3 linked regions of the Homo sapiens genome follow. The protein of the gene in region 1 purifies or fractionates together with the protein of each later gene. This does not show direct contact. Each region holds a gene or a part of one and is shown in the gene's direction. Other genes may lie near its edges.

The links.
Region 2: the proteins of ZNF223 (region 1) and TRIM26 purify together in Homo sapiens (affinity purification with mass spectrometry; 2 studies listed by BioGRID and IntAct, with this or other methods). This does not show direct contact.
Region 3: the proteins of ZNF223 (region 1) and HECTD1 purify together in Homo sapiens (affinity purification with mass spectrometry; 2 studies listed by BioGRID and IntAct, with this or other methods). This does not show direct contact.

Annotation. Positions count from the first base shown.
Region 1 is NC_000019.10:44,054,928-44,058,583, forward strand, and holds part of ZNF223 (zinc finger protein 223), read left to right. Parts: intron 1-181; 5' UTR 182-249; coding exon 250-264; intron 265-3,656. UniProt on the Homo sapiens protein: May be involved in transcriptional regulation.
Region 2 is NC_000006.12:30,183,832-30,186,713, reverse strand, and holds the end of TRIM26 (tripartite motif-containing protein 26), read left to right. Parts: intron 1-155; coding exon 156-838; 3' UTR 839-2,259; downstream 2,260-2,882.
Region 3 is NC_000014.9:31,110,210-31,113,865, reverse strand, and holds part of HECTD1 (E3 ubiquitin-protein ligase HECTD1), read left to right. Parts: intron 1-381; coding exon 382-589; intron 590-676; coding exon 677-762; intron 763-1,322; coding exon 1,323-1,450; intron 1,451-3,656. UniProt on the Homo sapiens protein: E3 ubiquitin-protein ligase which accepts ubiquitin from an E2 ubiquitin-conjugating enzyme in the form of a thioester and then directly transfers the ubiquitin to targeted substrates.

The DNA of each region.
Region 1 (3,656 bases):
CCACAATTTTTCTGTCCCTTTACCTGTAGGAGAGCTTTTTGGTTGTGTGCAATTTGGGGTTAGTATGAATAATGCTGCTGTGAGCGTTCATGTGCTAATTGACAATATGAGTCCTTGTTGGTGGGTGACATCCCTGGCCACCCTTTCATGTCTCTTTTTCTGTCTTCATGGCACTTTCCAGGCACAATTCTGCTTTCCCTGGAACTGTGTCATTCAGGACTCTGCAAATTCCCTAAAGTAGGAGGAAAAATGACCATGTCCAAGGTAAGTAGGACTTGCCTCTCTTACTGTTAAAATTCCATCTCACTACTCAGATTGTTGTGTGTTTTTCTCTGCCCTGGGAAGACTCAAGGAGAACAGCAGGACTTTGAGGATCTCTTGTCACCTGGCTAATTTTTGTAGTATTAGTGGAGATGGGGTTTCATCATGTTGGCCAGGCTTGTATCGAACTTCTGACCTCAAGTGATCTGCCCGCCTCGGCCTCCCAAAGTGCTGGGATTATAGGCGTGAGCCACCGCACCCAGCCAGAAAGCCTTCATTTAAAATGGCTAGTAATACTGGGCTGGGTGCAGTGGCTCACACTGGTAATCCCAGCACTTTGGGAGGCTGAGGCAGGCGGATCACCTGAGGTCAGGAGTTCGAGACCAGTCTGACCAACATGGAGAAACCCCATCTCTACTAAAAATACAAAATTAACTGGGCATGGTGGTACATGCCTGTAATCCCAGCTACTCGGTAGGCTGAAGCACGAGAATCACTTCAAACCGGGAGGCGGAGGTTGCAGTGAGCTGAGATTGGGCCATTGCACTCCAGCCTGGGCAACAAGAGTGAAACTCTGTCTCAAAAAAGAAAACAAAACAAAAAAAGTCTAGTAATACTGAAGATTGGCCAGTCACTTGTGTACTGTCACTCATTTACTTCTCAAAGCAGCAGAATGAGGAGGTTCCTGATCTCTTCTCCTAAACTCATGAAATATGAGAAACCTGCTCAAAATCAGAGGCAATCAAGGAACAGGAATGTTAGCCATTCTGCTCAAGTGAAAGAGAGAGACGAGAAGAAAGAAAAATTCTCCACTGAGGGTCTGGTGACCTGTTGTGTGGATGTCTGGAGTGCTCCCTTGAGTGATGACATCCATAGGTGGCGCTGCTTCTCCCTGTCCTGCGTTGGTGTGACCTCTTCTTTTCCAGACCTGGCACCTACTCAGGTGTACTCATTGTTCCAAGTACCCAAGGACAGTGATTACCACAGCTGTTCTTATCTCCAAATTCCTCCTTATGGCACAAGATACCTCACACATTTTTTCTTTGGCTGGGCGCGGTGGCTCACACCTGTAATCCCAGCACTTTTTCGGAGGCTGAGGCAGGTGGATCACTAGGTCAGGAGATAGAGACCATCCTGGCTAATATGGTGAAACCCCGTCTGTACTAAAAATACAAAAAAAAAAAAAAAAAAAAAATTAGCCGGGCGTGGTGCGGGCGCCTGTAGTCCCAGCTACTCGGCAGGCTGAGGCAGGAGAATGGCGTGAACCCAGGAGGCGGAGCTTGCAGTGAGCCGAGATCGCGCCACTGCACTCCAGCCTGAGTGACAGAGTGAGACTCTGTCTCAAAAAAAAAAAAAAAATCCCTAAATTCCTCCTTATGGCATAAAATGCCTCACCATTTTTTTTTTTTTTTTTTTTTTTTTTGAGATAGAGTCTCTCTCTGTTGCCTAGGCTGGAGTACAGTGTTGCGATCTCAGCTCACTGCCAGCTCTGCCTCCCGGGTTTACGCCGTTCTCCTGCCTCAGCCTCCCGAGTAGCTGGGACTACAGGCGCCCGCCACCACACACCCGGCTAATTTTTTTGTGTGTTTTTAGTAGAGACGGGGTTTCACCGTGTTAGCCAGGATGGTCTCGATCTGACCTCATGATCTGCCTGCCTCGGCCTCCCAAAGTGCTGGGATTACAAGCGTGAACCACCGTGCCCGGCCCGCCTCACACATTGTTACCAGAAAAAATGACAACCTGGGGCAAAAATATTTACCCCTTGGATAGTTAAGGAAGAATAAATCCAGAATAAGAATCTTCTAAAAGGATAAAGAAAAAAGTTCAAACAGATTGGAACAAAGAATACTAAAAGGCAATTGTAAAAGAAGAAATAGAGATCGCCAATAATCTTGAAAAGTGGTGATACTCATTTATAATAATAAGTGAGAATGATAGAATGAATTGTTCTTCCTAATCAGATTACAAAACCATGGGAATATTTATAAACTGCTCTTGGCTATCATAAGGAGAATTAGGGTACTTGTATTCTGTTGAATGATTAGAGAGGTAGGGAAAAAAGTGAGAAGAAAGTATGCAATTATATAATGATAATATTAAATGTGCTTATTTTTCACATTTTAATTTTCATATGAAATTATTTTAAATGAGACAGAGTCAGATGTTCTTACATCTTACTACTTACCATATCATCTTGGCCGGACTGATAATGGAAAATATGTGAAATTAAATATTTATTATTTAGTGTAGCTAAAAATAGATCATCAGTTCCCTGGAATACTATGGAACCCTGAAATAGATAATGGTAATAACAGTAATAAGTAATACCAGCTAATGTTCATTAAACAGTCTGTGCCGTAGACTTTTCAAAATACCGTATATTTCTTTTCTTAATTCTTGAAAAAACTCTTGTCATGTAAGAACTATTATTCAGAGAGGGAACAAGCCTTGTAGGAAAACATGTCTGAGGTCACATGGTTAGAAATGGGCAGACTCTCAGAATGTGCACTGAGGCATTCTGGCTTCTGATCAGGACACTAAATGCTGCAATAAGCATATGTGGTTTGTGCCTTGCGAGTACAGAAGACACACTGCATAACTGTCTCAGGGTACCATGGAGCAGGTTCACTGTGCACTGATTACCAACTCGTGTGAGTCCTGTGGGACAGAACACATTCACACGCAACAGATTGCATGAAGCAGATTTATTACTACAGATTGGCAGCAGGCGAGCCCAGAAGCCTAGGGTCCAGTATGAGCTGGCCATCCAGGGCTCAAGAAAGCTACCTGGAGCAGATGGAATCTTGACTGTATGTGCCCCACTTGCACCAGAGCTGAGGCACCCCAGAAGGTAACCTGCCCCCATTTATATACTTCAGGGTGCCATGACTCATGGAGAAAAACTTGAAGGTCATCTTCCTTCCAGGTGAGAGAGGAACAAAGCCCAGACTGTCAAAGGCAGTTCCTCCCCATAATATTGCATTCTTAGAATAATCTACAGTTATTCTTGAGAACTACAAGCAATAAAGGGGAGAGAGCTGGGTGGGGTCTGCACCCCAACTGTCCTGCAGTCCATCCCCTGACCCAGATATCCCTCTTAGCAAACTGGTCCATTTCATATGTCCATCGACCTCCCCTGGCCTCCCCTGATCTTGTTAGATCAGTGTAACACCTTGACTGACACAATCTCTGCCAACTTCATGGAATTATAGCTGGAATACATTCCGTGGACCCCAGAGGAGCATGACCACAAGCAGCACAGCCAGACCTTCCTGAAGTAGTAATCCTGCCCAGGTCCCAGTTATCAAAATAAGAAGCTGCTGAAGATACCAAAGAAGAATCATTCAGGTGGCCCCAGTGTCTGAAGCCAGTGGACCTGCTTCTGGGTTGCCTCT
Region 2 (2,882 bases), on another chromosome or scaffold:
ACTTATACCAAATTAAGGATGTTGAGTTATATTACTAATGTATGCAACTTTAATTTTGTTTAACGCTATCTGCCAAAATAAATTTTATTCCCTCTGACTTAAAAAACAAAACAAAACAGTGATGCTGTTTTTTTTTTTTTCCCTTGTCCCCACAGTGAGCGTCACCCTGGACCCACAGTCGGCCAGTGGGTACCTGCAGCTGTCAGAGGACTGGAAGTGCGTGACCTACACCAGCCTGTACAAGAGTGCCTACCTGCACCCCCAGCAGTTTGACTGTGAGCCTGGGGTGCTAGGCAGCAAGGGCTTCACCTGGGGCAAGGTCTACTGGGAAGTGGAAGTGGAGAGGGAGGGCTGGTCTGAGGATGAAGAAGAGGGGGATGAGGAGGAAGAGGGAGAAGAGGAGGAGGAGGAAGAGGAGGCCGGCTATGGGGATGGATATGACGACTGGGAAACGGACGAAGATGAGGAATCGTTGGGCGATGAAGAGGAAGAAGAGGAGGAGGAAGAGGAGGAAGTTCTGGAAAGCTGCATGGTGGGGGTGGCTAGAGACTCTGTGAAGAGGAAGGGAGACCTCTCCCTGCGGCCAGAGGATGGCGTGTGGGCGCTGCGCCTCTCCTCCTCCGGCATCTGGGCCAACACCAGCCCCGAGGCTGAGCTTTTCCCAGCACTGCGGCCCCGGAGAGTGGGCATCGCCCTGGATTATGAAGGGGGCACCGTGACTTTCACCAACGCAGAGTCACAGGAACTCATCTACACCTTCACTGCCACCTTCACCCGGCGCCTGGTCCCCTTCCTGTGGCTCAAGTGGCCAGGAACACGCCTCCTGCTAAGACCCTGAGCCCTGACATCTGCCCCCAGCCCCAACCCTCAGATGCTTCACTTCTTTGGAATTCCAGGACTCTCAATGGGGGGACGGGATGCCTGGCCTAAGCACCTGGAGCAGGGGACCCCATATCCACTGGTAGCCACCTCCCCATTGCTGTGGCCCCCTGAAATCTCACTCAGTGCTGTTGCTCCATCTACTGCCCTAATGGGGCTCTTTTCCCACCTCCTGCTGGTTTCCCGAGGGAACTTCTGACCCTGGAGTCCATGAGGGCTCCTTTCCTTTTTGACCACGACCTTGGCCCCAGCTCTGCACTCTCTGGAATAAGGGCCCGATGCAGCATTTTCTTGCCCAGTGTGGCAAGACCTCAGAAAAACCAGTCAATTACGCCTAAGATCATTTTGCTGTCCTTAAACCCCCCAGGTTCCTTCTTGCACAAATCCACTCTGCTGCCCACCTTCCCTGGCATTTTAAACAGACCTACCCCACCCCAACTCAGAGTTAAGCATACATGGCAATGCTGAAAATAAACAAAATCCACTGAGGCTTCCCAGGCCATTTAAAGCCTGGAGTACCAGCGCATATCATCTCATGGGGTCCAGAGTGGAGTCCAGGCTTCTCTGAAACCAGGGCTGAGCATATTTCCATAGCCAAGGAGGTGGGACTCCCTGGAGCTATCTGTGGTCTTAGGGAAGGATCCAGACATACACGGCTTTGGGGTACAAGCTGTGATCACTGATCAATAAATTATCTCTAGATTGGTCCTTGTGAGGGGAGTTTTAAGAATCCAGAACATCTTGCTCTTGATCAGCACATCCAAAAACACCAAGACAAACATCCAGTGGAGCAGAACCTCTCCTGCCTCGGGAGTTCTGACCGGGTTCCCCAGCAGGGTGTTAAGCCTCTGTCTCTGGCCCTACCAGCATCCAGGTTCCACTTTCCTAGGAGAGAGTGGAGATGGGAAGACAGGGAAAGGAAGGCAGCAGGAGGCCACAAGCCCACCAGGTCTTCATGTCAAGAGAGGGAGTAACATGTCTTCTCATTGCCCACGGACCCAACCTCTGTCCAGGTGCCCCTCATCATCACAGTTTAACACAAGCTCCCCTGCTCCAGCCAAATTGATCTCCCAGTCTTGTCCTTACCCATTCCAAGTGCTCTGCCAGCCCCTGTTCATCCAAGTTTTAAGTCCTCCACCCTGTTCTAAGAGACTGTTCCAACGGCTCTGGGCCTCAGTGGTCACTTGACCACCATTGTCTCAGAGCTGCCCACTTTGTGTGTGTCACATGCTGCCTGAGTCACATGTACATCTTATTTCTGCCTCTAGTTTTGTAAGCTCCTGGAGGGCGGATAACATCTTATACTACTCTTGTATTCTCATGGCACCTAGTGCAGTGCTGGGCACAGAGTAGGTGCTCAATAAAGACTTGTTGAATGAACAGCCTGGAGATCTGTATTTGTAGGTCTATATCTATATTATATCTCAAATGCCACCAGACCTCAGTCTGGCTACAGAGAAATTCCACTGATAGCAGTAGCCGAAGGTTTTCCTTCTGTGCCTTCTGTAACAGTGTAACTTTGCTTTCTGTTCTCTGCACACATGCTGTCATTTCTGGAAGTCCCTCAAAAAGAGCCTACTGCGGAACACAGACGAGTTGTTGCGTGGCTCCACCTTTTTATTCCTCCTGCAGTGGTGCCCTTGAGCTGAGGTCCAGCGTTTTGGAGCAAGTGATGACTCTCCCTGAGAAGGGAGACCTCCAGTATAGCACACCCAAAAATTCTTCCTTGGAAAATAAGCACTGCCTCAGAGGAAATAGAATGTGCAGAGATTCAGCCTTGCATCCTAACACAGTCAACTGTTTTTCTTGTCCTTTCTGATTTTTTTTTTTTTTTTTTTTTTTTTTTTTTTTTTTTTTTTTTTTTTTGAGATGGAGTCTCACTCTGTCTCCCAGTTTGGAGTGCAGTGGCGCCATCTCGGCTCACTGCAAGCTCTGCCTCCCGGGTTCACGCCATTCTCCTGCCTCAGCCTCCCGAGTAGCTGGAACTACAGGCGCCCGCCATC
Region 3 (3,656 bases), on another chromosome or scaffold:
CATCAAAACACTATTTTGATTGCAAATGGCTTCGTGCTTTGTTTTGCAGCTTTGGAAGCTTCTTAAGGAACAGCAGTTCATTGAGACATAATTTTAAAAATGAGGTTGAATTAACACTGTTAATGCACAAATTCTAAAATTTCAAATATGGCTGGTAGCATTGGATCTGAATGCAGACTTTGACCATGGCTTAGAGTGGTTATATTTTATTTGGGAATTTTAATGGTTTAGAATGCCTTGATTTATGTCTTGTGTTATGTTTTTATTTAAAAAGAAGGCACTTTAAAAAATTCCAACCCTTTCATAGTGGTATTGATACAATGATACACTGTTTTTCTTGAAAATGTGATTAATGGCCAGTTTTTCTAATTGTTTCTATAGGATTTTTGTGAGCATGGAACAAAGTCTGGGTTAAACCAGGGGGCCATTTCTACTCTTCAAAGTAGTGATATTCTTAATTTAACAAAAGAACAACCTCAGGCCAAAGCAGGCAATGGACAGAACTCTTGTGGAGTAGAAGATGTCCTTCAGCTTCTGCGTATTCTATATATAGTTGCAAGTGACCCTTATTCAAGAATATCCCAGGAAGGTCTGTAAGAAGCCTTGTTTCATTTCTATAGCAGTTTTAAAGCAAGTCAGTTTATATTTTTATTAATTTTATTAATTAATTTTATAGATGGTGATGAACAGCCTCAGTTTACTTTTCCACCAGATGAATTCACTAGCAAAAAAATTACAACAAAAATATTACAGCAGATTGAGGTAATAAAATCAGACAGCTGAACTCTTCATTCTATTACTGTTGGACTTTTCCTAATATTCCCTTTACTTTCTTTTCTACCTCTCACCATCTTTCCCTTCCCTCTGATTGGTAATTTGAGCTATATGGTCCTTTGCATTTATTTCCTAATTACAGGTTTATAATTGACTTGGTAATTTTTAATAATTGCCTTATAGGGTCAGGTGTGGTGGCTCATGCCTGTAATTCCAGCATTTTGGGGGCCAAGGTGGGTGTATCGTTAGAGGCTAGGAGTTCGAGACCAGCCTGGCCAATATGGCGAAACCCAGTCTCTACTAAAAATACAAAAATTAGCTGGGCACGGTGGCACATGCCTATAATCCCAGCTACTTGGGTGGCTAGGGCAGGAGAATCGCTTGAACCCAGGAGGCAGAGGCTGCAGTGAGCCGAGATCGTACCACTGCACACCAGCCTGGGCAACAGAGTGAGACTCTGTCTCAAAAAAAAAAATGAACGAATGAATGAATGCATGCATGCATGAATGCCTTATAGCACTAAGACATTATTATTTGTTAATTCGCAGGAACCATTGGCACTGGCAAGTGGGGCTCTGCCAGACTGGTGTGAACAATTAACCAGCAAATGTCCTTTTCTAATACCATTTGAAACTAGACAGCTTTATTTCACATGTACAGCATTTGGCGCCTCAAGGTAAGAAGCCTTTTTTTTATGTTTTTAGAATAAGTATGCTTTTATGTTATGTAAGTTGAAAATGTACAACTATACTGTCAAGACTGATAGAGGGAATATATTATCTTGTATTCTTATAAAGAATAGTCAGCATTGCCTTTTGGCCTGAACTACCAATCTTCTAGTAATTCGCCAAAATGACTAATCCAAAGGAAAGGAGGAGAGATACCCGATAGATGTTTTCTAGGTCTTTTAGAAAACATGGAGTTGTTCCTTTGGCCACGTATATGCAAATCTAAAAGAGAGGTGATACTGTAGACATTAAGGGAATGGGTACTGTTCAAAAAGGAATGCCCCACAAGTGTTACCGTGGCTAAACTGGAAGAGTCTACAGTGTTACCCAGCAGGCTGTTGGCATTGCTGTTTTTTTGTTTTTGTTTTTGTTTTTGTTTTTTTGAGACAGAGTCTCGCTCTGTCGCCCAGGCAGGAGTGCAGTGGTGTGATCTCGGCTCACTGCAACCTCCGCCTCCCAGGTTCAAGCGATTCTCCTGCCTCAGCCCCACTGAGTGGCTGGGATTACAGGTGCACGCCACCACGCGTGGCTAATGGCATTGTTGTAAACAAACAAGGGCAAGATTCTTACCAAGAGAATTAATGTGCATATTGAGCACATTAAGCACTCTAAGAGCCGAGATAGCTTCCTGAAACACATGAAGGAAAATGATCAGAAAAAGAAGGAAGCCAAAGAGAAAGGTACCTGCATTTAGCTGAAGTGCCAGCCTGTTCCACCCAGAGAAGCGCGCTGTGTGAAAACCAAGGGAAAGAAGTCTGAGCTGCTGGAACCTCTTCTCTGTGAATTCATGCATAATAGTGTTTAAAAAAAATAGCCAGGCGCGGTGGCTCACACCTGTAATCCCAGCACTTTGGGAGGCCGAGGCGGGCAGATCATGAGGTTAGGAGATCGAGACCATCCTGGCTAACGTGGTGAAACCCCATCTCTACTAAAAATACAAAAAGTTAGCTGTGTGTGGTGGTGGGCACCTGTAGTCTCAGCTACTTGGGAGGCTGAGGCAGGAGAATGGCGTGAACCTGGGAAGTGGAGCTTGCAGTGAGTAGAGATTGTGCCACTGCACTCCAGCCTGGGCGACAGAGCGAGACTCCATCTCAAAAAAATAAAAAATAAAGATAAAAATAAAAGACCTCTGGACTGTAAAAATGTTTCTCTTCCTTGAGTAGAAGTGTGGTGTCCTCTCCCCCAAAGAAATACTTCAGGCAAATTTTAATTTTGTCCTAAGCCTAATTGTGTAATGTCTTTACTATTCAAATTTAATGTATTTCTTGCTGAAAGATGTGAGATGGCTTATTGTGCAACAAATTACTCAATTGGTTAGAAAATGGTCAGATATTATTTACGAAATATTTGTACTACTTTGAAGATAGTCCCTCTAATCATGGAAGAAGTAATTTACCAAAAAAAAAAAAGCATTTAAAAAGTTTCTGTTTTCAGGCTGGGCACGGTGGCCCATGCCTATAATTCCAGCACTTTGGGAGGCCAAGGCAGACACATCACTCGAGGCCAGGAGTTCGAGACCAGCCTGGCCAATGTGGCAAAACCCCATCTCTACAAAAAAACACAAAAATTAGCTGGGCGTAATTCCAGCTTTTTAGGAGGCTGAGGCATAAGAATTTGCTTGAACCCGGGAGGCAGAGGTTGCAGTGAGCTGAGATTGCACCACTGCACTCCAGCCTGGGCAACAGAGCAAGACTCATTGTAGGTGCTCAATAAATATTTTGTTGAATGATTGTTTACCTTAAGTACTCTTCCAAAATAGTTGTAAAAAAAAAGTTATAATTTAAACTGTTTGTTTTCTTCCCTGATAGTTACATTTTTGTACCATTTAATGCCATTTACAAAGCATTTATATACATAGAACTATAGGCATGTTGTGATAACTGGCATTGATTATAATTTGTTTTATAAATGAGGAAATTGATTCTGCACGTACTTAGCTGATTTGCCTAAGATCATGAGAAAATAGTAGCACACATGAGAGTAGAACCTTCAGCTTCTTATTCCTAATTGTCGGTTCTTCCTCCCACCATAAATGGATTGTTATTAAAAAAAAGAAAATGTGGCCGGGTGTGGCGGCTCATGCCTGTAATCATAGCACTTTGGGAGGCTGAGGCGGGTGGATCAGTTAAGGCCAGAAATTCAAGACCAGCCTGG